7 separate regions of the Homo sapiens genome follow, and regions 1, 3, 4, 5, 6 and 7 are each linked to region 2. Evidence: fine-mapped expression QTL. A gene starts in region 2. Each other region holds a variant in brackets. All regions are shown on one strand. Distances are from middle to middle.

Region 1 (4,064 bases), 87 kb before region 2:
ACCCGCAGGCCCGACCACAGCCCCGCTGGCACCAGGACGCTCCGAGCTCCCTGCCGGGTGCTCAGTGGCATCACTGAGCCAGGCGTGGGGGACCCAGGAGCCCCGGGCTGCCTCAACCACGCTGCATCGGTCCCCTCTTGGCATCTTCCCACAGACACCAGGCCACAGGTTCTGATCCCAAAAGCCGATTCCCAGCCACAGCGCTATGTCCGTTCTGGGGTCCCCTACTCTGGATGACGGGGGCCCAGACAACCGGACCACCACCTCCTTCAGAGAAGCCCTGGTGCAGCTGGGGCTGGGGGTGCTCCCCGGGGCGCTGTGCCGACGGTGGTGGTGGGAGGGTGTTCCCGGGGGCGCTGTGCCAACGGTGGTGGGGGAAGGGTGTTCCCGGGGGTGCTGTGCCGACGGTGGTGGGGGGAGGGTGCTCCCCGGGGTGCTGTGCCGATGTTGGTGGGGGGAGGGTGCTCCCTGGGGTGCTGTGCCGATGGTGGTGGTGGGAGGGTGTTCCCCGGGGGCGCTGTGCCGACGGTGGTGGGGGAAGGGTGCTCCCTGGGGTGCTGGGCAGATGGTGGTGGGGGGAGCTTGCTCCCTGGGGTGCTGGGCCGATGGTGGTGGGGGGAGGGTGCTCCCCGGGGTGCTGTGCTGATGGTGGTGGGGCTGGTGGTGCTCCCCGGGGTGCTGTGCCGACGGTGGTGGTGGGAGGGTGTTCCCGGGGGCGCTGTGCCGATGGTGGTGGGGGATGGGTGCTCCCCGGGGCACTGTGCTGACAGGGGGTGCTATGCCAGCCAGGGGGGTTACTCCCTGGGGGTGCGGGACGCTCGCACCTCCTCCAGACTCACCAGAGCTGCAGCTTCACCCGCCGCCCGTCCAGCAGGATGGTGGTCGTCTTGTAGTCGATGCCTGCGGAAGGGTTAGAGACGGCTTAGGCCTGAGGCTGCAGCTAACAGGACGCTGGAAGTCTCACGTTCAGGGAAGAAAAGGGTTTCTCATCAGTGCAACTTCCAGGTTTACAAGGCAGGCGGATGGGACCCCCTCCCTGTGTCTGCCCAAGCTCACAGGGGCCCTGCCTGCGCCCTCCCGCACCCGGGCCCCTCCTGTCCTCAGCCGCCTTGGCCTCTGTGGGGGTCAGGCTCGCATCACCCTGGCCCAGGGGGCTCCCCGACAGGCACTGCAGGGCCTACATGTGACCTGGAGGCCGGTGGGTTTGCCGCGGGGCTGTGGCCGCTGGGTGTGCCCCCGTCTGGGCTGGTCCTTCCCTCCCCACCTCCTCCCCAAGCCTGCAGGCCTGAGAGCTCCGACTCAGCTCTGTTTCCAAGGGAACGGGGCTAAGGCAGCGGCTCTGCAGACACTGAGACTGCGTCCCCCAGTATCACACTAGGAAAGTACAGTAAAGACAGACGTGACGCTGCGTGGGATGCCCGCTCTCAGCTGTGTACATGTGCATGTGAACCACGCATGTGCAGGGACACGGGACTGCACACCCGTCCCAGCCACCTCTGGGGTGCAGATTACAGGTAGGCTGGAACCTTCTTTCCACATTTCTATTTTTTCAAGTTAAAAACAAACAAACAAA[A/C]AAAAAACCCGAGAATGCCTTTCTTCTTCTTTTTTTTTTTTGAGACAGAGTTTCTCTCTGTCGCCCTGGCTGGAGTGCAGTGGCGTGATCACAGCTCACTGCAGCCTCCACAGCCCAGGCTCAAGTGATCCTCCCACCTCAGTCCCCTGAGTAGCCGGGACTACGGGCATGTGCCACTAGGGCCAGATAATTTTTGTATTTTTTTGTAGAGACGGGGTTTCGCTATGTTTCCCAGGCTGGTCTCAAACGCCTAAGTTCACACAATCTGCCCGGCTCAGCCTCCCAAAGTGCTGGCATTACAGGCATAAGCCACCATGCTGGAACACTTCTTCTAAAATAAAAAGCTACAATTAAGGGCTGGATGCGGTGGCTGACGCCTGTCATCCCAGCACTTTGGGAGGCTGAGGCGGGTGGATCACTTGAGGTCAGGAATTCAAGACCAGCCTGACCAATATGATGAAACCCCATCTCTACTAAAAATTCAAAAATTAGCCGGGTGTGGTGGCGGGCTCCTGGAATCCTAGCTAGTAGGGAGGCTGAGGCAGGAGAATTGCTTGAACCCGGGAGGCGGAGGTTGCAGTGAACTGAGATTGTGCCACTGTGCTCCAGCCTGGGCGACAGAGGGAGACTCTGTATCAAAACAAACAACAAGAACAACAACAAAAAAAAAAAAAAAAAAAAAAAACTACACTTAAAAAAAATCTTTTTTGAGACAGGGTCTCCCCCTCGCCCAGGCTCTAGTACAGTAGCACAATCACAGCTGACTGCAGCCTCTACCTCCTGGGCTCATAGGCACACCACTGCACCTGCCACCACACCTGCCACCGCACCTGCCACCGCACCTGCCACCACACCTGCCACCGCACCTGCCACCACACCTGCCACCGCACCTGGCTAATTGACAGGGCATTGCTGTGTTGCCCAGGCTGGTCAACCTCCTGGACTCAAGTGATCCTCCCACTTCAGCCTCCCAAAGTGCTGGGATTACAGGCATGAACCACCATGCCTGGCCACAATACATTTTTTTTTTTTGAGATGGAATTTCGCTCTTGTTGCCCAGGCTGGAGTGCAGTGGTGCAATCTTGGCTCACTGCAACCTCGGCCTCCTGAGTTCAAGTGATTCTCCTGCCTCAGCCTCCTGAGTAGCTGGAATTACAGGCATACACCGCCACGTCCAGCTAATTTTTGTATTTTTAGTAGAGATGGGGTTTCATCATATCAGTCAGGCTGGTCTTGAACTCCTGACTTCAGGTGATCCACTTGTCTCGGCCTCCCAAAGTGCTGGGATTACAGGCATGAGCTGCTGCTCCCGGCCAATAAATATTTTTAAAGGGAAAAATATGTTTCCCCGCCCCCATCACCCCCCAGACACCAGTGTTCTGCTTCTTTAGGAAACATCTCCTGTGTTCACTTCTAGCGCTTCCGGATGAGCACCAGGTCTGTCATTGAGAACATGGAAAGAGAGGGTTTGAGTTAAGGGGCTGGAGAATGCCGGGTAGGAGCACTGCCTTCCTAAAACCAGGTACAATGACACGTACAATCACAGGAACCCAAACTGCTTAGTAACAAGACATGACCAGCCTTTGTGGGATTTGCTTGATTTATTTCATGTATAGGATTTACTTGACAGTATCTCTCAAAGCACTAAACCTACAAGAGACAAGCCCTGGCCTCACTCTCGGCTGTGATCGGATGTTGAGTGCTTTGACAAGTATGGCTGAATAGGGAATCAGAATTCTAAAGGGAAGCGCGCCGCTGAGAGGCCGAGGGGAGAAGCAGCGCCGAGGCTCGCACCAGACCTCACCCTGGAGACCGTCGTGGAGCACACGGCCTCTGCAGCTCTCCTTCCAGAGAAGCCCACGATGTAGCCAGTGAGTGCCCAGAAACAGGCTCCTCTAAAAATGCGAGGCTGCGGAGGCCACGGTTCTCAAGCAGCTTCTGCCCCCTCGAAGGGTCTAGAACCCTTGGACTTGGCCACAAGCCCCCCTGCATCCCAGGAGGCAGTGTGCCGAGTTCCTGGTCTCCTGTCGGGCAGAGCGAGGTGTGCAGTGGCGGTGCCACCGGTGGCCTCCCACTTGGCTTGGACAGCTGGTCGCCCACATCTTCAGGCAGGCCTGGGCGTTGCAGCAGCTCTGGGCCTCTGTCCTCCACTTTCCACTGATGCAGCCATGAGCACGTGCATGGCACACCTGCCTGATCTGAGCACACCTGTGCAGCGCCTTCCATGAGATCCCGAGCACCCCTCCCTCCCACAGCTGCTGTGTCCAGCCTGTCCCCTGCCCTCTGCTTCCTCCTCCGGGCCCTGCCCCCTTCCTGGACTCCAGAGGCTCTTTCTGTGGTGCCACCAGAGCCCCAGAGACATGGAGTCCAGGCTTCCCGCATCCTCCTCTGTCTCCTGCTAAACTCCACACTCTGTCCACAGAGACTGCCCATCACGCCACCAGGTAGATTAGACCAAGCAACACCAGAGCAAACTCCCCCCGTCAGAGGA
Region 2 (4,058 bases):
CTAGACCTAAATTAGGAGGAAATCCTAAGTTAGACAAAGCTAGACTCCCCTGAAGTCAGGTGGCCCCTATTTCTGGGCTTGGCAGGCAGTGCTGGGGCTGGACACCGAAGCAGATCGCGAGTGGGCTTTGCCTTATTTCCAAGAACGAGGTGATGAGACCGGGGCTCCCAGAGGCCAGCGATAACTGCAGCCGTTGCTCTCGTAGGTGAAGATCCCGGATCTGTTTTGTGGCCTAGAGATTGTCCCCGCGTTGCTCCACGGGGATCTCTGGTCGGGAAACGTGGCTGAGGACGACGTGGGGCCCATTATTTACGACCCGGCTTCCTTCTATGGCCATTCCGAGTTTGAACTGGCAATCGCCTTGATGTTTGGGGGGTTCCCCAGATCCTTCTTCACCGCCTACCACCGGAAGATCCCCAAGGCTCCGGGCTTCGACCAGCGGCTGCTGCTCTACCAGCTGTTTAACTACCTGAACCACTGGAACCACTTCGGGCGGGAGTACAGGAGCCCTTCCTTGGGCACCATGCGAAGGCTGCTCAAGTAGCGGCCCCTGCCCTCCCTTCCCCTGTCCCCGTCCCCGTCTCCGTCTCCCCGTCCCTGTCCCCCCGTCCCCCGTCCCTGTGCCCCCGTCCCTGTCCCCCTGTTCCCGTCTCCCCGTCCCTCCGTCTCCATCCCCCCGTCCCCCCATCCTCCTGTCCCCGTCCCCCCGTCCCCGTCCCTCCATCCCTGTCCCCCGTCCCCCTGTCCCCCTGTCCACATACCAATCCCCCTGTCCCCGACCCCCCATCCCCGTCCCCCATCTCCGTCCCCGTCCCCCCTGCCCCGTCCCCGTCTCCGTTCCCCCGTCCCCATCCTCCATCCCCGTCTCCCATCGCCGTCCCCCCGTCCCCGTCCCCCGTCCCCGTCCCCCCTGTCCCTGTCCCCCTTCCCCCGACCCCTCCCAGATCCTGGGGACCAATAAAGCCCGCAGCGGGTCTCGGCTGGCGTCCTGCGCCTCGTTCCTCCGCTCGTGGGGCTGCTTTCAGGGCCAGACGCACGGCGAGCTGTGCACGGACGTTTTTGCGGCGATTCAGGGGAAACGCACGCGGACCCGGTAGCCAAGGCCAAAGTCGGCGCAGCGCCCACCGCGGCCTCCGGGCCCCGCTCCCGCTCCCGCTCTGGGGCGCGCCACCACTCGGCGCGGGGCCCGTGTGATCCGCGCGGGTCCCAGCGTGGCGCGAATAAGTGTCAGGGCGGTTGGCTCTGAGGGGTGGGTCCCGGGGCTCGCCTCGCGCCCCCGACTGCGTGCTCAGGCCCCGCCCCTCCCCGTCCACGCATGCTGAGGCTCCGCCCCGCTCCGCGGTCCCCCGGTCCCACCCGCCCCCGCCCCGCCCCCGCCCCGCCCCCCGGCGTGTTGTGGCTCCGCCCCGCTGTCTCCGGCCCCACCGCAAGCCCTGCCCCTCCCACCCACGCGTGCCCGGGCCCCGCCCCCGTTGCGCGCAGCCCCGCCCCCTATCGCGTGCTCAAGCCCCGCCCTGGCGGCCCCCGGCCCCATCCCGAAGCCCCGCCCCCCCGCACACCGCCTGCTCAGGCTCCGCCCCGCTGTCCTCCGGCGGCGGCCTCACCCCGCAGCCCGGCCCACCGCGTCTCAGGCCCCACCTCCTGTCCTGCCCCGCCCACCGCGTGCTCAGGCCCCGCTGAGCGGTCCCGGCTCCGCTCGCGCCCTGTGGGGTCCACGGCGCGCTCTTCCAGAGCCTTTGGGACCCGTGCCCGCTCGCGTCCTCAAGTGCACGCGCCGTCCCGCGCGCGGTATTTTGGCGGCCGACGCGTTCCGTAGCGAGGCCGGCGAGTGGGGTCGGAGGTCGCGGGGCGGGGCCAGCGTCGGTTGCCGCCTTAGCGGGCGCCTCCTTTTCATCCCTCATCCTTCATCCCTGGCTTTCGCGCTCTAGCGGAGTGGGATCTGCGAACACGTGAGGCGGGGGCGCGGTCCCCAGGCTGCCGAGATGGCCCTGAGCGACGAACCGGCCGCGGGCGGCCCCGAGGAGGAGGCGGAGGACGAGACACTGGCCTTTGGCGCGGCGCTGGAAGCGTTCGGCGAGAGCGCGGAGACCCGGGCGCTGCTGGGCCGCCTGCGGGAGGTGCACGGCGGCGGCGCGGAGCGCGAGGTGGCCCTGGAGCGGTTCCGCGGTGCGTGGGCGGCGCCGCGTGCCCGCTTCCTCCCCCGGCCCGGGTTCGGCGCGCTGAGTGCACTTTACCGGGCGGGGACCGCAGCCCGGCGGCGCCGGCCGCTCTGCGAGGGCTGCCGGTGCGCGGTCCCGCGGGCCGTGGTGGGGCGCGGCCTTCCTAGGCGGGAGAGGGCCACCCCGGCGCGGCGTTAGGTGCACGGGGCAGACGCGCGCCTCCCTTGGGGGGACCGTGGCCCGCGGAGCGCCTGCTCTCGCACGGGGTGAAGCCTCTGCGGCCTCCCCGGGAGGCGGGGTGCAGAAGCCCTCCGTCCCCCGTCTCCGTCACTGGAGGAGGTCCCTGGGCTGGGGAGACTCGGGCCAGACCCCTCCGGACAGCTGGTCAGCCCTGCAGTGTGGACTCCCAGGCTTGCCTCCACCGAGCGCGGTTTCTGTGAATGTTGTGTGGACAGGGAGATAGGGAATGAGAGAGGGGGACGCAGGGAACAAACCTGCTGCAAACAAAGCGCGCCTCGGGTGGGGAGGGCAGCAGCCTGTCCGTTCCGTGGACGCCGTGGACAGAGCGGGCTGGCCGGGTCCGTGCCTCTGCAGGCGGGGTGGGGTGTAGGTACCCCTGTGGAGGCCATTCGATGAGTCTAAATTCTCCGAGTTCAGACCCACCTTTACCGCTGTCTATAATGGGTTATTTCCAAACAAGTCCTTAGGAGCTCATAGCTAAGTAGTTACATGGGGTTTTGTAATTCAGTAAAATCATCTTTGTAGACCCTTTGAGTAAGAAGAACTTTTGCATTATTTGGCCTTCCTCATTTTAGAATGACAGCGCTTTGATTTTAGGAGTCAGGCAGGGTGGGGGGCCTTGTGGGAGGAGTGCGGGTTCGGCGTCAGATCCTCCTGCCTGTGAATTCTGGCCCTGTCGCTTGGACCTGATACTTGATTGCCTGTTTCTTCGGGTGTAAGCTGGGGCGGATAACGATGCCTCTCGTGCAGAACTGTTCTGAGGGTGAGGGACCCTCATCCAGGGACCAGTGAAGCCAGATTTTTTGTTCCTGGTGTAACAGCCCAATGGCTTCTTCCTTTTTTTTTTTTTTTTTTTTTTGATACGAAGTCTTGCTCTGTTGCCCAGGCTGGAGTGCAGTGCAGTGGTGCGATCTTGGCTCACTGCAACCTCAACCTCTCAGGTTCAAGCTATTCTCCTGTCTTAGCCTCCCGAGTAGCTGGGGCTACAGGCGCGCGCCACCACGCCCGGCTAATTTTGTATTTTTAGTAGAGGGGGTTTCACCATGTTGGTCAGGCTGGTCTCAAACTCCTGACCTCAAGTGGTCGCCCGACTCAGCCTCCCAAAGTGTTGAGATTACAGGTGTGAGCCACTGCGCTCGGCCCCAGTGGGTTCTTTCTGCGGGCTGCCCAGATAGAGTTGATTTGTCAGGGCAGGGGAGTTGCCATGGAGAAGATTTAGTTCACGCAGAGCCGGTTGAAAGGGAGACTAGACTAGAGGTTTTTTTTTTTTTTTTTGAGGCGGAGTCTCACTTTGTCCCCCAGGGTGGAGTGCAGTGATGAGATCTCAGCTCACTGCAACCTCCACAACCTCCACCTCCCAGGTTCAAGTGATTCTCCTGCCTCAGCCTCCCGAGTAGCTGGGACTACAGGTGCGCGCCACCACGCCCACCTAATTTTTCGTATTATTAGTAGTGACGGGTTTCATCGTGTTAGCCAGGATGGTCTCGATCTCCTGACCTCGTGATCCACCCGCCTCAGCCTCCCAAAGTGAGCCACCACGCCCGGCTGGAGTTTTATTATTACTCAGATCAGTCTCCCTGAGAATTTGAGGGCCAGGGTTTTTTAGAGGTAATCTGGGGGAAAGGGTGGGGGTGGCTGATTGGTTAGGGGTATACAATC
Region 3 (4,064 bases), 42 kb after region 2:
CAGGTCAGGGGCTGCCAGGTCGGTGCTGGGGTGTGGAGCTGGGCCTTGCATGGCCCCCACCTGTGAAGGTAATTAGTGTTTACCTTACAGTCCAAAGTTTGGTGAAAAATAACACTTCGTTCTGGAAAGATAAAAGCTAGATGTGATTATTTCGATCATTGAAGCATTTTTGTGTGAAATTACCTTTTTTTTTGGCGTCAGTGGCATGATCTCAGCTCACTGCAACCTCCACCTCCCGGGCTGAAGTCATCCTCCCCCCTCAGCCTCCTGAGTAGCTGGGATTACAGGTGGACGCCACCACACCTGGCTAATTTTTGTACTTTTAGTAGAGATGAGGTCTTGCCATGTTGTCCGGGCTGGTCTGGGACTCTTAGGCTCAAGTAACCCTCCTGCCTTGGCCTCCCAAAGCGCTCGGATTCTAGGTGTGAGCCACTACACCCAGCCTGAAATTAGTTTTCATTTTGATATTTGTTTTCTTAAAATTCTTTATAATTTGTCAGAAATTTATTTTGTCAGAAACAGTATATTTTTTCACTCTGGGGCTCTGATTCTAATCAGTCATTTACCAATCCAGCAATGAAAGTTTTCACTTCCGTCAATGGCTTTTTTCCTCTGAATGTGTGGTGGTCCTGAGGGGAGTGCATTTTGCTCGCTCCTGGGGGAGGCAGTGGTCTGGCCTGTCCCCACCAGTGCCCCCTAGGCCCCGCCTTGAGGACAAGCTCTCTTCTGTTTCTGAGCGCTCTCCCGTCCTGTCTAGGGCAACTGCTGCTCTTTCTAGGGGTGGTAGTGGGGCTCTTTAAGATGTCCCTCGCTTTGATTTTTGCAGGCCAGCAAATGCACTGGACGTTGTGGTTTTTCTGGCCTCCAGTAGTGGTGTGGTGGGAAGGTTCTTTTCCTGCCCTGCTGCTGAGGGGAGCCTCGAGCGTACCAGAGTTCCTCAGTGAAGCCTTTGCACGTCCTGCAGGGTGCAGCCCAGCATGGGTTTCACTGCCCTCCAGGAAAGGCCTGGCCCTGGTGGGCTCGCTGCAGCACAGGCACGGACCTGGGGCTGTGCTCTCAAGGCATTCCAGCCTGGAAAGGGTTGTTTTGGTGTTAAAGATCCTCTTCCGTGCCTGTCCTGTGGCCCCTCTGTGTGGCATGCCCAAGAGTGGCTTTGAACATGGCTGCCCTCCGTGTGCTGAGCCTGCGGGGGCACGGCTACCCTCCGTGTGCTGAGCCTGCGGGGGCACGGATGCGATTGGTTGCTTCCCAAGATACCATTTCTTGGTGTCGGAGCAGGACTCGGGATGGCAGAAAGGGGAACAGACTCGCTCTCCTCATCTGCAGAGTCGGCATGGTTATGTGGGGCCACAGGGTGACCCGCTGGCCTGGAGCTAGCGTGGTCTCAGCCATCTGCCTCAGTGCCGGCCGGCACTCACAGCTTCTCAGAAGCCTGTGTTACCAGCCAGAGCCAAGCCTGAACTGGTGTGGTGTGGGGGCCCTTCTCCCAGGGCCTCGGGTGGAGTTGCTTTTCTTGGCCTAGATTTGGCAGTGCCTGAAGGGAGCCTCAAACCAGCATCTCCTGCTTGGCAGCGGGTGAGCTTGCTCCCGAGTAGCTCGACAGCCTGTGATTTACTGGGCTTGGAGAACATGCCCCAGGGGGGGGAAGCTGGCTCGCACGTTGCAGAGAAGCCAGCTTGGGTGGGTAGCCATCGAAAGGTGGGGCGGGTTAGGATGATTGCTGAGAAACTCCTTTTGTTTGCAGCTTGTGCTGTGCTGGTTTCTAGAACAACAAAAACAGACCTGCAGTCATTCCTCATTTACCATGCAGGGCTGTTTTCCTCTAATCCCTGGTGTCATCACCTCTGTCTAGTGTATGCTTTTCAGCAGGTGGTTTTAATTTGGTTCCCATTATGCTTCCATGAAAGTGGGCTGTGCCCCCCATTTTATGGCCTAGCTTATGAGCACTCAAGACCATTGATGACTAGAGTGCGCTCTCTCTGGCCGCGTCCTCCTGCTGACAGGTACCCCATCCCACCGCCACGCTGAGCACTGGCCACTGCACACTGCACACTTTCTCTGGTGAAGATGGCCTTACTTTTCAGTGAAATAAATGGAAACAAAGCCCTGTCTTCATTGACTCGTTCCTTCCCTGTCGTCTCTTTTGCCCTCCTGCACCCATGCCTGGGAAAGTGGATAACTTTTGGGGCTTTTCTCTGTGTGTGCTGAATGCCCAGGAGGCTGCCTGTGTAATTCAGCTGGAAACTGTCCCCAGGGTAGAGAGAAGTGTGAGGAGAAAAAGACCCTTCGCCCTGTAAATGTGTG[G/C]GGTTCTGGTTTCTCCCTTACTGCAGATGGTGGCGGGCCCTGGCCTTGGTGCTGTCTCCTGTGTGTAGCTGGGGACGGTGGAAGCTGGGCTGGGCCTTTCCAGGTGTGGGGCATCCAGGCCAGTTACAAGAGATGATGCTTGCTTTCCCGAGAACTCATCACCACTTGTATCTTAGTCTGCTGTAGAGAATGTTGTACTACACTTCATAGGAATTGAGTAACTAAACAACGTTCATGTGTGAGGGCACTCTAGGAATTTCACAGTGTCTTGGATTCTTTTTATTTAGTGAGAGAAACCAGACGACGTGTTAGCCCGTTGCCAAGTAAGACTGGGGGACACGTCAGCCTGTTGCCGAGAGAGACCAGGGGACATGTTAGCCCGTTGCTGAGAGAGACCGGGGGACACGATAGCCTGTTGCTGAGAGAGACCGGGGAACACGGTAGCCTGTTGCTGAGAGAGGTCATTTCCCGGATCTTTGTCCTGCGTCCGCCCACAGCTGCACAGCTGCTCTTCTGGTTTAGGTTCTGGCCTTTCCCACTGGGGTTTTCCAGCAGCCTCTGTAGCGGTCTTCGTTGTTGAGCACTTCACTGTTCATCCCCAGGTTCTCCATCCAGCTGCTGTTGGAATCTGGTCATGTGGCCATGGCTGCAGGTGATACGGTGGTGCTCTTTGCCTGTAGGATGAGATTTCAGCCGCTCGCAGGTTCATTTGTTGTGGAACAACGTACTCCACAGCTGGTGGCATCAGTGACAGCCGCACTCTTGCGTGGATCGATTCTGTGGCCTCGCAGGGTGGGGTGCAGGGGGCCGTTTGTTACTGCCCTTTGATGCCTGGGCCTCTGCCGAGAAGACCACGTGGCAGGTGCCTTGAAGGGCTGGGTGCGGCAGGGGCCCTTGACTGAAGCTGGCTCTTCCTGCATGGCAGCCGGCTTCCCGGAGGGAGTGTCTCAAGGGGAGGTGTCTGGAGAGGCCCTGAAAGAGGCCGCCAGGCTTCTGACCTGGGATTGGGGGTCACTGGCATCACTCCTGCCTGCCTCTGTTGGTTGTGGCAGTTGGAAGCCTACCAAGGTGGTGGGTGAGGGACCCTTGATTGTCCGTCTGGCAAACTCTGTTCCCCACTGAGCTGGCCAGCCGGCTGCAGTGACAGCTTCTCTGTGAAGTGTCTTGTCTTCTTATCCCCCAGGCGCGGTCCGGCTTCTCGTTGCACACTGGTGGGCTTCAGGCCGTCAGCCCACCTCCCAGGGAATTTGAGTGTGTGCTTGGCCCTGCGACTGCCCCCGAACCCCGCGTCCCGTTGCGGGGAGCTCGCCTGTGCCCCACGGTTTCTGCTCAGCAAGTGTTGGCTCTGTAAACCGATGACTTAGGGTTAAAACACATATTAAATTAGATACATCTGGACTGGTGTGAAATAATTTAACTTTCGATTTTATATTTCACACAAACTAAAGATGGGGAAGAGTTCTTAAAGTTAAATGAGAACTTGTTTTGGGCAAACAAGGATCATCTCCATTCACTTGGTAGGGAACGTGTTACTATCCATTTCGCTAAAGAGAAAGGGGCTAAGTCTCTGATCACCTTGGTGAATGTGTTATTCTGAGTGGCTCAGGGAGGTGGGTGCTGCCACTGCCCCATTTTACAGACAGAGGAACAGGAGCGCAGAGACCCTGCTCTGCTCCACAGGCGTGACTGGTGGTCTGTCTGGCTGTCTCCTTCCTGTTTTGATCGTAGGTGTGGGATCTGCACCACAGGTGTGACTGGTG
Region 4 (4,064 bases), 170 kb after region 2:
GGCTGAGGCACCGCTTCATTCCACCGCTGAGCCCCGCGTGCCGTTTCGTGAGAGGCTGAGGCACCGCTGAGCCGCGCGTGCCGTTTTTAACTTGATTATAAAATACATTTAAAGTTCACATGCAGGTGCATCTCCAAGAAAATTATTTTAAAAACTAGTTAAGACTTTCATTTCCCAGTCCTCAACACACATCAGAGCAGTACTCTGTTCAGAGCTGAAAGGATTCGCGCTGGGACAAAGGCGTGTCACTTGAGTGAGTGATGGTGTCACAGGTGCCCACGTGGAAGAAGGTAAAGTCGTATCTAAAACTAAATGTGAGAGTAACTAATAACTTACGCATAAAAACTACCATCATAAAAATCCTCGAAGAAATTTTAGGAGACGTTGTAGGACAGTGTCAGTCTCTGAAGAAAACTTCTTAGTTTAGAAATTTTCAAATCTGCGCAGAAGTAAAGAGAAGTAGTTTACGGGGGGGGCCCAGAGTCTCGCCCGGCGCTTCCTTTCTCCTCCCCTCCTCTGAGTTTAAAGAAGACCCTGAATGTCAGGTCCCAGCAGCCCCTCGCTGGGTTTTTCTAACTTGTGGTAAGAACTGGTTTTCTGGGGTTTTTTGTTTCTTTTTGTTTCCCCCCTCTTGGCATGTAATCCCCAGCTAACAGATTTTATCATAATAATTCCACAAGGTAGAAACAAAAGGAGATAATTATGTTGGGCCTTATATTGAAGAATAGACCATGTGTAGGTTGGTAGGGAAAACGGAGATTGAGAATAAACGTCTGTTCTACAGTCGAAAAGGTAAAAAGTTAATTAGTGTACAAAGACTAAATTGTAAAACTGCCTGTGACGAGGTAAAGGATCCAGTATGAAATGGGGCAGAGCAGACGTGTGGGCATTTCATGCAGAAGAGGAGCAGACTCACGTGGCCGTGGACGGTGAGGGTGCCGGCCTCACCTCGGAGGCATGGAAGTACCAGGTTACTTCACATCGAGAGGACCGTTTTCCTCTTTCCAGTCGGCTGCGGTTGGCACTGAAGAATCTTGGTGCTGACAGACACAGAGCAGGGTCTCTCGTGGAACAGGAGTTGTCTGGTCTGTTCAGTTTGATGAGTGGCAGTATCTGTGACGATGGGAAGTGTGTGTGTGGTCCCTGTCCTGTGTGCAGGGACGCCAGGTGGACCGACGGCCTCCGCATCTGTAGCACGGTCAGGCCTCCTTGTTCACGGTGACAAAAAATGGAAGGAGAGTTTAGTCCCTCAGGAGAAATAGCAAATACCATGAACAAGTGTGCAGCAGGCGTCTGCGAGTGGGTTCCGTTGTTAGGTAGAGACGGTGGGAGCTAGAGCAGTGTGTGGCCGTGGGAGCTGCTGATGCTGTCCAGTCGTCTCTGTCTCGTGCGTCCTGGCCCCCTCGTGGCTGGTCAGGGCCACGTTTCTGGTCATGGAGAGTGTGAGTGACGAGCTATGTGGGGAAGTGACAGGCATGACCTGTGGTCTGGAGCATTGCAGGTGATGGCTGTCTGTCGCTTGGGTCCTGAGTGACAGGTCTAGGAGCAGAAGCCGCTATGCTTCCCGTACAGCCTGTCACAGGGACGTCTGCAGCTCCCTGACAGGCCGGCCCGGCTTCTCTGAAGTGCACGTGGGCTCACACATGGGCCTTCTGCCACGTGGCTGGGTCTGCAGCACTTTCTTCAGGCTGCTCAGCGGAGGAGGCGTCTTGGGCTTCTCATGGTGGTTCTGAAATGGTTCTGGGATGTTTCCAGCCCTGGCAGC[AG/A]GGTAGGTTGGGCGGGTGAGGGGCAGGAGCTGGCCGCACACAACTCAGAATGTGGCAAAGGCAAGCCGCTGTGGCAGGCGCTTTTAGAAAAGTAACATTGCGTCTATCCTTTTTTTTTTTTTTTCCAGTGTGTGTTTTAATAGAAAAGTTGTCACTTTCCAAAATGCCCTTTAGAGGTGACACCGTAATTGGTAAGTGCTTTTGTTTTTAATAATAGCATTTTCTTACAGAATGACTTCAGATTAAAAGGTAAAAATGAACCTGTTAGGATGGGGGCGATAAACGATTATAGCTTAAAGGTTCAAGATATTAATCGGATACGTTGCCTTGAAGTTGTTACAAGAACCTGCTTAAATAATGGGTACCCACCGCCCTCTCCCCCCAACACAGGAGGGCCCTTCCCCGCCGTCACCTCAGTACCCCCACCTCCTCGCTTCCATGCCCAGGGCCCGGCACTCTGGGTCAGTTCTTCTCCCAGGCAGACAGTCGGGAGCTGCAGCCACCCAGGCCCTCGTGGACCAGGAGCGTGCCGGCCGCCGACACCACGGACCCTGTGGGCAGAGGCGGCTCCAGTTCCTCAGCAGCCCCCCACACTGGGCTGCCAGAGCACAGTGAAGGGAGCCCCCAGGGCTGTGGTGTCCCGGGGCTGTCTCAGCAGCCTCAGAAGTTAGGACTTTTTTTTTGTTAATTGAATAGCCTTCACATTTGTTGCTTGTGCAGGATCTAATTGAGTTAAAGATTTGGGTTTATATTGGTGGGAGCCGGGGGAGACCGTTTGAAGGAAAAGATTTAGGGGTAACAAAAGAATAAAAGTTTCCCAAAATGTGATGTATAAAAATTTACAGAATGCTGGTATTTCCCTCAATAAGAGCTTACACAATTTAACAGCCATGAGAGGAAGGGGCCTTAGACTTAACACAACGTGGAGAATGTTCACTTTGGCTTTTCCACAGATTCCTCTCAAAGGTTACCATCGACTTTAAGATTAGTATTAATAGAAGCTGTTTTTGCTGTTGTTTTTGATTTCATGGTGTTTTTGATTGCCTGGGTACGCTAACTTGATTTTTTGACAGATGGTTGGCAATGGCTGATAAATGACACTTTGAGACATCTCCATCTCATCTCAAGTCACTCCCGCCAGCAGATGAAGGTACAGTGAGCATGGGCGTTCCCGGCCGGCGCTGTGGCGGTGTTAGTGTGTTAGTCACGGATGGTGTTTGTGTTGGCGACTGTGCATCATGAGGCTGTCCCTGCAGTAGCCTGATAACTGACAAATGGGGGCATAATTCTATTTGGAATCCCGGATGGTAGCGTCTACACGGTTTATAACCAGAAAATCCAATACAGCCATTGGAATCCGAATGTTTAATTTTTTATTGCTTCTGGCTGTTTTAATTATAGTTACCTTTGAAATACTTTTTCTGCATCAATAGTAACTGTGCTCTGTTGAGTTCCGTGTCCTGTAGGATCTGAGGTTTGGAAACTCCCTTTATGATGCTCCTGTGCAGATGAGAAAACAGCACCCCAGGACCTCTGCTCGCACACATTGACCTGGTCATGTTGTGTGGGTGCCAGTGTGTGTGTGTGTCCCCGGCCACCTGCCCTCCCCTCCCGTCCTGGGGGTTACAGGTGGACTTTGGACTCACAGAGCTGTAACGCTGATCTCATTGCATAGATAAGAAACCATGGGCCCGGCGCAGTGGCGGGTGGATCACTTGAGGTCAGGAGTTCGAGGCCAGCCTGGCCAACATGGTGAAACCCCATCTCTACTAAAAATACAAAAATTAGCGGGGCGAGGTGGCGCGTGCCTGTAATCCCAGCTACTCAAGAGGCTGAGGCAGGAGAATTGCTTGAACTTGGGAGGCGAAGGTTGCAGTGAACCGAGATCACGCCATTGCACTCCAGCCTGGGTGACAAGAGCAAGACCCTGCCTCAAAAACAAAAACAAAAACAAAAACAAAAAAAACCATGGTTACCAACGTTGACTAGGTTTTGATATTGAGGATGAAGAATGGAAGTACATTTAGGTGTCTTGTAATTCTCTGACTTCCTCCATGCTTAGCATTTCTTTTTCCTTAGCATCTTCAATTTTCTTATTTTTTTTTTCTTAAGGAACTTGAACATTCTGTAGGATCCAAGTACCGTTCTACTAATTGAATTTGAATGCATCATGATCAGTGCCTCAAAATTTTATTTCAAAAGTCCATGATTAATTCACACTGGCCATGATGCTGGTGCACTTTGCCCCTGGGATTGGCACAGGTGGTGACTCGTGGAATGCAGCACCCTGTAGACGAC
Region 5 (4,064 bases), 130 kb after region 2:
TGCCAGGTGCCTCCACTTGAGGAGACTGTGTTTTCCTCTGTAACTAGCAGTGTTCTTGTGGGGTACTCGAAGGTTATGCAACATCCTGCTGTTTCTCCTTTGGTTTTCACCCCATCCGAGCTCTGTCCAAAGACCTTGTTGTGTGGTCTGGTGGTGGTTCCTGTGTCCCCACCCCGACGTTCAGTGATTGCAGCTTGTTCTTAAGGAAGGCTCGTTCCTCTCCCAGCTTTATTTCATCATTCGCTCCTGCCAGTGTGGACTCATGGGTGCTCATCCTGTTTGGGGGTTATCATCTAACACTATTGTTACTAGTTTTGTTTGAGTTATAATCTAACACTAACTATTGTTATTAATGTTGCTCAAATTGCTCCAGCTTTGGCCACTTCAGGTTGGCTTCTGTGTCCTTTCAGCAAGATCCTGTTCTTTTTTTTTTTTTTTTTTTTCTTTTTTCCTGAGCCTTTTTTCTTTCCTTCTGGCACCACAAGATGCACCTGGCTTATCTTTTTGCCCCTGCCCCAGCCCTAGCATCCACCACTTCCCAGGAGTCTCACATCCTCTCGGTGGAGAACAGTATTTGGAATCCAGGACGCCGGGCTTGGCCTCAGCTGCCTCTAGGTCCCCTCCCTCTGTAGCTGAGTGTGTGCCCCTCTTCACAGTCCATGTTTGCACAGACACCAGCTCTAGCCCAGCTTCCTCCTGGCCTCCCTTCGTGTGCCGCTTCTGGGCCTACTGTGTAGCACGCTCTGCTGCCGTGCGTCTGCCGTCATGCATCTGACGTGATTTTGGAGCTGCCAGCCCACACCTGTGTGAGCAACAGACTCACCACTCAGGGTGGGACGCTCTGTGCATCCTCCTCACCCTGGGCATAGCGTTGCCAGGCCATCGCTCGGGTGAGCCCTTCTGGTGCTGCTGGTCTGGGATGCAGACAAGTCTGCCGGTTCCCTCTGTGCTGGTCCGGGATGCAGACACGTCTGCCGCTTCCCTCTGTGCTGGGCTCCCCAGGTCTGTGATTGTTGCTTCTTCAATCTGCATGTGGTTGTGTTCTACAACTCAAGCACCAAACAGGACAGTCCGTCTCCCCCAAAAACTCCCCAGTCTGCTCCCCAACCCTGGGCCAACATTGGTCTGATTTTGGTCCTGATAGTTTACCATTTCTGGAGTGTCTTATAAACGGAAATAATCAGTAGGCTTTTCATTCTGGCTTCGTTGACTTGGCACAGTGCCCTTAAGACTCATCCCAGTGATCTTTCCTTTTTTTTTTTGGAGTGGTGTATTGTTGGACGGACCTGGCGGTCACAGGCCTACCTGTCTCCTTGGGTGTCTCCAGTCCTTTCTGGAGGCTCAGGGGGGCTCAAGGGAAGACTCTGCTTCCCTGCTTGAGTTGCCCGCATTCCTTTGCTCATGGGCTCTTCATCTACCTTCACAGCCAGCCACGTCCACGTCTCGCTTCATCCTTCACGTACCCTATGCCTGTGGTCCTTTCTTCTGCCTCCTGTGTCTGTCCTTCCTTCTTCCTTCCTGTATGTATTTATCTCCTTACCTGTCTACTTATCAGTCTGTCTAGATGGGGTCTCGCTGTGTTGCCCAGACTGTACTCAAATTCCTGGGCTCAAGGGATCCTCCTGCCTCTGCCTCCCACAGACAGATGGAGCACAGGTGTAGCCAGGGCCGCTGGTGTGTACCACTGTGTTCGGCACCCGCTGGGCTGCAGGAGTAATCCAGGGCCCTCTCCCCATCTTAGGGTCAACTGATTGCCAACCTTAATTCCCCTTTGTCAGGTAAAGGAACATGTTTGAAGTGGGACACCCTTATCTTTGGGAGTGGGTATTATTCTGCTGAAGACAAGGGTGGGGACAGATATGCTGTGACCAGGGTAGTTGGGCTTATGACTTTGTTGTTGTTTACGTGGAGGAACTGAAAGACCTGGGTGTGCTGCTGGATGCCCCAAGGATCTGGCAGGAGGAGGCATCCAGGCCCTCAGGGCAGGTAGCGGGTGGGCCTCCGTGGTGTTGGGAGGTGCTGGGCCCGGAGGTATCAGCAGGAACTGCAGGGTCCCTACCGCAGGCTCCCCACAC[A/G]GTGACACCTGTCTGTCCGTCCGTCTGTCCACAGGAGCAGGAGGGGCTGGGCGGGGAGGACGCAGGGTCTGTCGGAGCATAGCAGTGGCCCGTACGTGAGGGACTTTGTTGTTGCCGTCTCCCCAGGGTGCAGAGCGTGGTGGTTTGTGGCCATCCTTGCAGTGTGAGTGAGCAAGTGGCCGAGGGGTAGACTTTGGATGGCTCCAGGCGGAACTCGGGGAAGGAGGCCGTGTACTCCCATAGCTCTGGGCTCTGTTTGTGGCTGTGGCCACACAGGGCAGGGCCTCAGGGCAGGGAGGCCAGTGCTTTTGGGAAGGGCCTCCCCCAGCCCTCAGAAGCCTCCCACCCTATTCCCCTTGGGCTCCATCCTTCTGTTTTTTTTCTGGCTCTGGTTCCTGGCGTCTGTTTGCAAGGCTGGCTGGACACTGCAACCACCTGGGCTTGCTGCTGTGGCCTGGACGCTGGGGTCTCTCTCGGCCCGGTGGTGAGCTGAGAAGCGGCCCTGTGGTAGAAGAGGGCCTTTCCACGCTGAGACCACAGATTGTCCCTGCAATAAGCAAACATTTCTCTAAAATGTGAGATAAACGCTTTATCCACTGGTGATCCGTGGTTGTTAGTAATTAAACCAAGTAAACGGTAGCTCATTCGGTCAGGCCGCTTGCCGCCGATGAGGGGTGCAGAGCTTCTGCAGCATCCTGGGGAGGTCCCGGAACGTGGGTCTGGGCTGTGCTGATGCTGGAGCAGCCAGCGGGGAGAGCTGCCAGGCCACTCCTGACAGCCCCGCACCCGCTCTGGATGGAAGCTTCTCGCTCCCAGCCGATACGGGCCTGCTGCCTGCTGCTGGGGCTGGAGGGGCCCCTCTGCTTGAGCCTTGGGGTACCCCGTGCCTACGTGCCCTCCTGGCTTTGCCCATGGTTGGTGGCCGTGTTTTGGGCTGCGTTGATGTCGTTGTGGAGCCCGCTCTGGGCCTCGGCACGTCTGAGCTTGATTGGGGTGGAAAATGCACCTGGTGGTTTGTATTATGTTGTTTCTGTTTTATTTAATTTCATTTGCCATTCTTATTTCAAAAGATGCTTCCTATGTTTATGCTATATTGTTAGTTTAACTTCCTACCCTTTCCATCTATGAATTTCTGTTTTTATTGTGGTTCTCAGTGACCACACTCTAGGGGTCCTTTCTCTCTCTCTCTGTCTCTCCCCCCTCTCCCCTCCTCCCTTCCTCCCTCCCTCCCTCCTAGGCAGAGCCTGTGAGACTTGCAGGCATTTCCCCAGAACCCAGGCCCTCTTGGCCATCTGGCTGCTGCCCCACCCAACCTTTGGCCTCTCCTGGGGCTCCTGGATGGTTGGGCGTCCCAAATCCCCATCAGCAGAGCACTTGGTCACAAGGCCCGAGTCACATGCCCCAGCTTCTCCGAGGAAGTGCAGAGTCCAGCCGCAGGGAGGACTTTCTCAACCGGCCCTGGGGCCAGCTGTCCTGCTCCTCCTTGTTTGCTGTGGGCTCACCTCTGTGGGCTGCTCACTCAGACCCACTCGCACCCATGGGACCTTCCCACCTGTTTCTCCTGCCTCCTTCAGTCTGTGCCCAGCACCCCGCTGTCAAGCCCATTCCCCCCCAGCCCCTGACGTTGGACATGCTGGAGGAGACTGTGGCCCTGTGGCGTGTTCTGGGCCATCTCCAGGGCCTGGAGCGGGCACCTGTGCCCAGCACTGGAGGCTGGGGGACAAGTGCTCTCTCTGATAAATGCCCCCGAGTTTCAGTTCTGTGGCTGTAGTTTGTAGGTCTCCTAGCTCAGCATCCCCGAGCCCATGCCCTGGGGACTCATGGGGCCGAGGAGAGAGGAGCGCAGAGAACATGAGGATACGTGAGCCCCTTGCCTGAGAGGTGTGCTGTGAACCTGGAGAGCAAGGCCAGTGGGTCTGGGGTGACAGACAGTGCGAGATGCAGGAAAACAGGCTCGAGATGCTGTGAATCTGGAGAACAAGTGGGCCT
Region 6 (4,064 bases), 180 kb after region 2:
TTCTCTGAGGCACAGATTTTTCTGGTGTGTCTAAGACAGCTTGCCTAATCCGTGGTCACTGAGATTTTCTGTTTTGTCCTAGAAGATTTATAGTTTTGGGTTGTGTATTTAGACCTGGGACGCGTCTTGAGTGAGGTTTCTTACATGGTATAGCGTCGGCACAGGCACCTTGACGCCCAGCGGTGCCCACCCCAATTGCTGGGAGGGCTCCCCTCTCCGCTGCATTGCCGTTGCAGCTTTGTAAGAAACTGTGGGTTTACTTTGGACTCTCCTGTGCCCGACGTGTTTGCTTCACTTTGCACCAGGGCCGTGCTGTTTCTATCCCTTCCACTTTACCATCATTTTCGAAGTTCAGCGTCAGCCTCCAGCCTTGTTTCTTCTTTCCACAGTTGTTTTGTCTTTTCCTGAAGCTTTGCGTTTCCACGTAAATTATAAAGGGGGCTTGTCGCTTTCCACTGGGATCCTGCTGACTCTCAGCCATTCAGGGAGTTGGGCGTCCTTGTTGCTGGTGTCCAGGGTCTCACAGCTCCTTCTCCCCTCAGGGTGTCCGTGCCGCTGCTGAAGACGCTGGACCACGTGCTCACCCACGGCTGCTTCGACATCTTCACCACGGAGGAGGAGTGAGGCTCTGCTTTTCATGACTTCCTTTCCGATTAAGCCTAAGTAGCTCATGTATTAAAGAAAAAGTCATCAGACACAGAGATCAGAATTCCAGGAAATGATCTTCCAGTGCGTTCTGGGTCAGTTATGGTGACTGTAAATACCGTCATCACAGCTGGCCCTCAAAATAACGCAATAATAACATATTTACATAATGACATATTATGACTGTAAGTGCAGTCAGCCCCATCTGGGGCTGAGGCGGGGGCCCTGCTGTGCACTCTCCCCCCAGCTATCCCACCGGGCCAGGGGTGGGCCTCAGGGTTGTGCTGGGAGCCGCAGGGCCTGAAGGGGCCTCGGCTGTACGGGGATGAGACTCGCAGGGGAGAGGGCAGAGGCCGGTGACCTGGCGAGGACTTGCCCAGGAGATTGGAGCTCCTTGCTTCTGCGCCACGCGGATGCCCCAGGCTGGTCTCAGCTGGGTTGTTGGCTCTGAGTGGTCATCTCGTTGCTGCCATATTTTCTTGCTTCATTGAATTTCACCGTGTTGGGCCAGTCTTTTTTTTTTTTTTTTTTTGAGACAGGGTCTAGCTCTGTTTCCCAGGCTGGAGTGCAGTGGCACAATCACAGCTCACTGCAGCCTCTACCTCAGCCTCCCAAGTATCTGGGACTACAGGCATGCGCTGTAGTCTAATGTACGGCTAATGTTTGTATTTTTAGTAGAGACAGGATTTCACTATGTTTCCCAGGCTGGTCTTGAACTCCTGGCCCCAAGTGCCTGCCTTGGCCTCCTAAAGTGCTAGGATTACAGGTGTGAGCCACTGCGTCTGGCCTGGATATATTTGTATCTGGGGCACGTTGGGTCATCCGGAGACAGCGTGGTCTGTTTTTGGGGGCACTGCTTTTTTTTTGTTTGTTTTGAGATGGAGTCTTGCTCTGTTGCCCAGGGTGTAGTGCAGTGGCTCGATTTCAGCTCACCGCAACCCCGTCCCGGGTTCAAGCAGTTCTCTCGCAGACTTCTGAGTAGCTGAGATTACAGCTGTGCACCATCACACCTGGCTGATTGTTTGTATTGTTAGTAGATACAGGGTTTCACCACATTGGTCAGGCTGGTCTCGAACTCCTGACCTCAAGTGACCTGCCCACC[T/G]CGGCCTCCCAAAGTGCTGGGATTACAGGCGTGAGCCACTGAGCCTGGCTTGGGCGCTACTCTTAAGCTGTCAGGTGGACCCAGAGCTGTGCTGGTCTCCAGGGTTTTCTGCCCCTTTAAGGTCTCTGCTCCCTGGCGCTTCCCTTCCCACCGCTGCTGGGGCAGTGCCGGGGCTTCTGGCCATCTTTTGGGTGGTTCGTCCCCAGCCTTGGACAGCGTCCTCGTACTCAGGTACTGGCTGACCCAGGCCCAGGTTAGTCCTCAGCGGCCCCCAGGAAGCCCCCTCTGGTGCTCAGAACCTGAGCGAGCTCTGCAGACTTGGAATTTCCCGCTTCTCACCACGGGCTTCCCGCTGGAGTCTGCCACCTGCTGGACTTGGCTCTGCCTTAACCTTCGGGCGGGAGGCAGATCTGGTCTCTGTTGCTCCATCTTTGCTGGACGCTGCACATGTTTTTAAATCTAACAGCATTGAAGGGTTTCCCCTTTTAATTTCTTAATGGGGCATCACTGACTGACCTTCTTACACCTGCTGTTGGAACAGCCTCCATGTTCACAGGTGCACCCAGCTCGGTTGTGGCGTATTATCCTTTAATACAATGCTAAATACTCCATTTAAATTTTTTTTTTGAGATGGAGTTTTGCTGTTGTTGCCCAGACTGGAGTGAATTGGTGCGATCTCAGCTCACTGCAACCTCTGCCTCCTGGGTTCAAGTGATTCTCCTGCCTCAGCCTCCCTAGTAGCTGGGATTACAGGCATGTGCTACCATGCCCAGGTAATTTTGTATTTTTAGTAGAGATGGGGTTTCACCATGTTGGTCAGGCTGGTCTCGAACTCCCGACCTGAGGTGATCTGCCCACTTCTGCCTCCCAAAGTGCTGGGATTATAGGCGTGAGCCACCGTACCTGGCCTAAAATATTGACATATATTTTTCTGGCTTAAAAATTTCAAAATAAGCCTGGGCGCCATGGCTCACGCCTGTAATCCCAGCACTTTGGGAGGCCAAGGCGAGTGGATCACTTGAGCTCCGGAGTTTGAGACCAGCCTGGCCAACTTGGTGAAACCCCATCTCTACAAAAAATACAAAAACATTAGCCGGGTGTGGTGGTGCCTGTACGGCTTGGGCCTGGGAGGCGAAGGTTGCCGTGAGCTGAGATTGAGCCACTGTGCTCCAGCCTGGGCAACACAGCCAGACTCTGTTTCAAAAAAAAAATTTTTTTTCCAAGATAGGATGGTAGAGAAAATACCTCCTGCCATGTCCTGCTATGAATACAGCTTTGTATTTCTCTCTACAGTTTTGTCAGTTTTGGCTTTTCAGATTTTGAAGCGTGTTTGTGGGCTGAATCTTGCCCTTATCACCCATTTCTAGGATGCTTTTTGCTCCACTCATTCTTTGTCTTGCTTCACTTGACTTTGAACTGTATACTTTTTTCCATCGTTTTACTTTCAGTATCTTCATACATGTATGTTTTTGTACGCCTCTCTTAGAACAGTGTATGGTTTTGTAAAAATTCAGCCTGTAGCTTTTACCTGCCTCCTTCATGACCTTTATAATCCCCTTGGTTCTCAGCCTGCCACTCACAGGACTTTTCCCTGTGCTGCGTTCCCAGTGCCCCCTCCCCGCCCCCACCTGTGCTTTTTGTTGGATTAGTAGAATTGCTTTTGTCATTCCATTGTTTTCATATATTTGTTTGGGACATTTTACTTTTTTCTGTTAACGCTTACCCTAGAAATTAGAAATGACACCACGTATTCTTAGCGAAGTCCAGTTTTCAGCATTTTGTCCTTATTGGACAATAGCAAGGATATTAGAACGTGTTGGTTCCGCGTGCTTCCGTCTTGAGTTATGTGCTGCTATTGTCGGATATTTTGTCTTAGATGTACGTACTTTCCTGTTCATTGTGGTATGTGTAATTTGCGTTACTTTGAATTTTCCACGTTTTTACTTTCTTTGTCTCTCATCACTTACTGCTTTTGGGACCCCCCCCATCGGGGTTCACATTCCCTCTCCCTAGAGCACACTCCCTTGGATTTCCTCGAGTGGGGTCTGCTGCGGTGAAGCTTTCCCATTTTATGTGCAGATTATTTTCAGAGGGTATATAGAATTCAGGCAGCTGTTTCGTTGTAGCACATTAAAAATATTTTCCCACTTCCTCCTTGCTTCTGTTGTTGCTTTTGAGTGTTACCTCTGAGTCTGCCTGTGCTCCCTGGAAACGGCCCGGGTTTCCCACCCCCTGCCCAGGTTTGCTCCTTCCCTGGTTTTTCTGTCATTATCACGCTCACGTGTTTCCCTCGGTCACCCCCTCTGCAATTTTCACA
Region 7 (4,064 bases), 180 kb after region 2:
GTGACCTCTCCCCGGGTGTCCTTCCTGGGTTGTACCAGGGGCCATGGATGGCCGTGAGGAAGGTGGTGCCAGGAGCTGCCTATCTCATGGTGTGGGGTCTGTGGCTCCGGGCCAACATTGCCACCTCCCTAAAGAGTGCACTTTGTTATAGCTTATGGTTCTTCTGTGATTCTTTATTGCTTTCCAGGTTCTCACAGGTTTAAGAGCAGTTACCCACACTTCCCCCGAGGACGTAAGTTTTGCTGAGTCCAGGAGAGACGGCTTGAAGGCCATTGCGAGGTGAGTCCCAACAGTTCCTCCCTAAAGTCGTAAGTCTCTGAAAGGCCAGCAGATGAACGCTAAGGGGGATGTTTTTGCTCAGAGGCAGGACTTATGATTCTTCACTTCCTAGGTTTCCTCTCTTCCAGAGGATCGTCAGTCCCAGCTGCTGGAGGCTCTTTCATTCTCTTGCTGTCATAGTCGTAGTGAATGTTAAACTTCTTTAGGGACACTGGGCCCCTTGGAGAATTGGAGAATGTGTCCTGGCCCAAGGTTGGCAAAGAGGAGCTGACCCTGCCAGCCAGTGTTTGGAATGATCTCTGCACTCGTTGACAGACACGCACCTGGGGCCACGCCATATGCCCTCTCCTCCCTGCAGGCACACAAGAGGAGCAGTCCCGCGGGGGCCACGCACGCCCCCTTCTCTCCTATGCCAGCATCCGTTCCCTCTAGTCAGGGTGGGAAGTGGGAGGGACCAGCCGCAGGGGGCGTCCCCATCCACCTTTCAACCGGAGAGACGGCAGAGCGTGACCTCGGGGAAGCACGTCCCACGTTCCATACATGTGGAAGGAGCTCTGTGTTTCTGATCTACCCGAGGGTCCTGGACTGTTCTGAGCGTGTCTTCTCAGGATCAGGAACACACATCAGCCCTCTGCGATGTGGAAGATGAGGCTCACCGATGTTTGTTTGTTAGCTCACACATTTTAAATTTCAGGATTTGCCAGACTGTTGGTGTGAAAGCAGGAGCCCCAGACGAAGCTGTGTGCGGAGAGAATGTTTCCCAGATTTACTGTGCGCTGCTGGGCTGCATGGACGACTACACCACGGACAGCAGAGGGGACGTGGGCACCTGGTACGTACGTAGCAGTGGGTGAGCGCTTCTTCTGAGAAGCCCATCTATTCCGTGGAAACTCGGAGGCCCCGGGCTTTTCTGCAGGGAGAAATCTTTGTAGATTTGTGCCGTGTTTTGCGTTTTAAAGGCTCTGGGGAAGATGACCTGTTCTCTGCTCCCGGGTGAGCCTGCGTGGCAGGGCTTTGCAGGTGCTTGTCCAGCCCGTCCTCAGGTGTTGGGCCTGTGTCGTCCTCGTTGACAGGGTGTGAGGGAGGACGCGTCTTCAATGAAAGGCTGCCGGCTGCTTACATTGGGTTTTGCCAACATTTCTTGCTGTAGTGGGATTGATAACCCCTGAAACGCCTGTGTGTGTAGGATGCCTCGGGGCCCCGGTGTGTGTGGCTGTGGGTGGCTCCCTGCACACGTCCCTGTAGCGCACAGGGAACCTCTGCAGGCCCCGTGACTCCCTGGCAGCGTGCCTGGGCTCTGTGTGGGGTTAGTCACGGGTGTCGAATTCACACAGGCTGCCGGCGTGGTGGGCAGAACCAGGGTTGGAACCCCCCTCTCAAGCTGGGTGTCTCTGCCTCTCCTTGTCCCATCAGGGTCCGCAAGGCCGCCATGACCAGTCTGATGGATCTGACACTTCTGCTGGCTCGGAGCCAGCCTGAGCTGATCGAGGCCCATACGTGAGTGTCACGTCGCAGCTCTTCTGCATCCTAGAGGGCAGCCCCGAGCTTGGGGAGGCTGGCGGGGCGGGCGGTCCTGGTGCTCAGTGGCATTTGCACTGCTGGGCACACACCCTCCTCCCAGAGAGCCTCTCTGGTCCCTGACCCCAGGTTTGTGCAGGCCCCTCCTCCTGCCCCCATAGCCATGGCGTGAGCTGGGGCCCATCCTCCTCTGCCCAGTGCCCCCAGGACGAGGCTCTGCTCCCCAGCCTGGGCCTCCAACGGTGCTCTGGCCAGTTTGATGACAGCCAGCTTCCCGGGGTAGGGCCGGGCAGGAGGTGGGGACTTCTCAGCTTAGGACCCTGAACCTGGGGGTCTGCTCCTGCCAGGACCAGCTGAGCCATCACTCAGTTCCCTGCACCTGAGGCTGCCATTGGGGCCTGCCCTTGCTGTGTGTCTCTGTCGGGGGCACGGGGTTGTGGGTACCCCCAGGCCCTGCCCTTTCTGTCGGTCTCTCTGTCGGGGGCACTGAGTCATGGAGGTCCAGGCCCTGCCCTTGCGGATCTCTGTCAGGGGCACTCAGTCAGGGGGTCCAGGCCCTGCCCTTGCGGGTCTCTGTCGGGGGCACTGAGTCATGGGGGTCCAGGCCCTGCCCTTGCTGTCAGTCTCTCTGTCAGGGACACT[C/T]GGCCGTGGGGATCCCAGGGCCTGATTTCCTTAGTTCTCACCTCTTTCTCTTTCCCCCTCCCCATCTCTTCCCCAGCCCCAGCTTCTCTCTCCCCATCCCCGGCCTCTCTGTCCCCATCACTCTTCTCCACCCGCTCCTGTAATCCTATTTGTTGTCCCTGCTTCAACCCTAAGACCTCATCAGCACGCATGTAACACGTAGCACATGTGTAACAAGTACGTAGCATGTATTTGCTGCGCACCTGTAGGGTTGGGCTCCTGGGATGTGAAGGTAACGGAGTGTGGTTCTTCCGAGCCAGTGTCCTGGTGTCAGCTGCCAACTCAGCCACCATGTCCCGAGGAGCCCGCATGTCCTCGTGGTGCTTGGGCTGGAGTCACGGCTCGGACCGCCTGTGCTCAGTTTACCGCCCGCTCTTAATTTACCGCCCGCCCTTGGTTTACCTCCTGCTCTCGGTTTGCAGCTGTGAGCGCATCATGTGCTGTGTGGCCCAGCAGGCCAGTGAGAAGATTGACCGTTTCCGTGCTCACGCCGCCAGCGTGTTCCTGACGCTCCTGCACTTTGACAGCCCTCCCATCCCCCACGTGCCCCACCGAGGAGAACTGGAAAAGCTGTTTCCCAGGTACTGTCGGGGTGTAGGCCCCCCGTGCTGGCCCCGCAGCCATGGCGAGATCATTGGCAGCCCGGCCTTGTCTCACTCACTCTCTTGCAGGTCCGATGTGGCCTCCGTGAACTGGAGTGCACCTTCCCAGGCCTTCCCACGCATCACCCAGCTCCTTGGGCTGCCCACCTACCGCTACCACGTCCTGCTGGGGCTAGTCGTGTCCCTGGGCGGCTTGACGGAGTCGACGGTGAGGAGGCGTCGGGCTGGCTGGGGCAGGAGGTGGCTCCAGGAGTGCCTGGTGCTTCCCTGTCTCTTGGGAGCATGTATGGAGCTGGGCCTTTTCTTCCATTGCTTTCTATCTCTCTCGGGCATATTTGGTTAGGGGGTCAGGGGCCCAGTGTCTTCCTCATGACCCAGGAGGCTTAGGGCCTGTGGGATGGTTGAGTCTGATGAAGGTGGGACAGGGCCAGCGCCACTCTCTTCCTGCGGCCGCAGCCTTGGAGCTCCCAGCGTCCCCTCGGGGTTCAATCCTCCAGGACCTGTGTCTGATGCCTGCATGTGGGTACCTGGGCTCCATCAGGTTCTAGATCGGCCTCCGCCCTCCACTTTCAGGGCTCCAGGCCCAGCTTCTCATGTCTGTGGGGAGGGTCTCCAGAGCCTTGGTCTGTGGCTGAGCTGTGGAACTTGAAGGCCTCTCTGCATCTTGTCACTCGTGGCCCCTGCACCTTGGGTCATGACCTGCTTTATGTGGCAACCCTGTGACAGCTGCTAAGTCCTAGAAAACACGTAACAGGACGTGAGGTGCCCTCTGCGCCGTGTGGGCGCGTGCGGGGAGACCCGGGCCCCAGGACGTGAGGTGCCCTCTGCGCCGTGCGGGCGCGTGCGGGGAGACCCGGGCCACATGCGAGCGGGGCCCCGAGACATTCTGCACTCGGGAATTGCGGGGATTATCAAATCCCGCTTCAGTGGGAAACGTGAGCGAAACCCAAGGTGAGTGGCCGCAGCCTTTCGTCACGTGCTCTC

Evidence for each region.
Region 1: its variant is fine-mapped to the expression of TBCD in whole blood (INTERVAL, PIP 0.98).
Region 3: its variant is fine-mapped to the expression of TBCD in whole blood (TOPMed, PIP above 0.99).
Region 4: its variant is fine-mapped to the expression of TBCD in whole blood (TOPMed, PIP above 0.99). The same link has a PIP of 0.9 or more in breast, cerebellar hemisphere, cerebellum, lung, skeletal muscle and skin.
Region 5: its variant is fine-mapped to the expression of TBCD in whole blood (TOPMed, PIP above 0.99).
Region 6: its variant is fine-mapped to the expression of TBCD in whole blood (TOPMed, PIP above 0.99).
Region 7: its variant is fine-mapped to the expression of TBCD in nasal epithelium (TOPMed, PIP above 0.99).

What each region holds. Positions count from the first base shown.
Region 1 is chr17:82,663,657-82,667,720 of GRCh38, forward strand. It overlaps RAB40B (RAB40B, member RAS oncogene family), which reads right to left. Exons shown (of 6, transcript NM_006822.3): 2 at 840-900. Among named protein-coding and RNA genes, the nearest start is that of MIR4525, 2.6 kb to the right of the region's middle. RefSeq lists an enhancer at 686-1,186. The variant A/C (reference allele first, on the strand shown) is at 1,574.
Region 2 is chr17:82,750,212-82,754,269 of GRCh38, forward strand. TBCD (tubulin folding cofactor D) reads left to right here and starts at 1,854. Exons shown (of 39, transcript NM_005993.5): 1 at 1,854-2,166. The coding sequence starts at 1,983. FN3K (fructosamine 3 kinase) reads left to right here. Exons shown (of 6, transcript NM_022158.4): 6 at 206-985. The coding sequence ends at 544. RefSeq lists silencers at 1,046-1,405, 2,096-2,415.
Region 3 is chr17:82,792,619-82,796,682 of GRCh38, forward strand. All of the region lies in intron 7 of TBCD (tubulin folding cofactor D), which reads left to right. Among named protein-coding and RNA genes, the nearest start is that of TBCD, 43 kb to the left of the region's middle. RefSeq lists an enhancer at 1,193-1,913. The variant G/C (reference allele first, on the strand shown) is at 2,305.
Region 4 is chr17:82,918,662-82,922,725 of GRCh38, forward strand. It overlaps TBCD (tubulin folding cofactor D), which reads left to right. Exons shown (of 39, transcript NM_005993.5): 24 at 1,895-1,957; 25 at 2,840-2,916. Among named protein-coding and RNA genes, the nearest start is that of ZNF750, 81 kb to the left of the region's middle. RefSeq lists an enhancer at 1,197-2,396. The variant AG/A (reference allele first, on the strand shown) is at 1,766.
Region 5 is chr17:82,878,637-82,882,700 of GRCh38, forward strand. All of the region lies in intron 14 of TBCD (tubulin folding cofactor D), which reads left to right. Among named protein-coding and RNA genes, the nearest start is that of ZNF750, 41 kb to the left of the region's middle. RefSeq lists an enhancer at 4,049-4,064. The variant A/G (reference allele first, on the strand shown) is at 2,076.
Region 6 is chr17:82,932,116-82,936,179 of GRCh38, forward strand. TBCD (tubulin folding cofactor D) reads left to right here. Exons shown (of 39, transcript NM_005993.5): 34 at 543-620. Among named protein-coding and RNA genes, the nearest start is that of ZNF750, 94 kb to the left of the region's middle. The variant T/G (reference allele first, on the strand shown) is at 1,748.
Region 7 is chr17:82,926,213-82,930,276 of GRCh38, forward strand. It overlaps TBCD (tubulin folding cofactor D), which reads left to right. Exons shown (of 39, transcript NM_005993.5): 28 at 188-279; 29 at 974-1,111; 30 at 1,693-1,776; 31 at 2,901-3,059; 32 at 3,150-3,288. Among named protein-coding and RNA genes, the nearest start is that of ZNF750, 88 kb to the left of the region's middle. The variant C/T (reference allele first, on the strand shown) is at 2,440.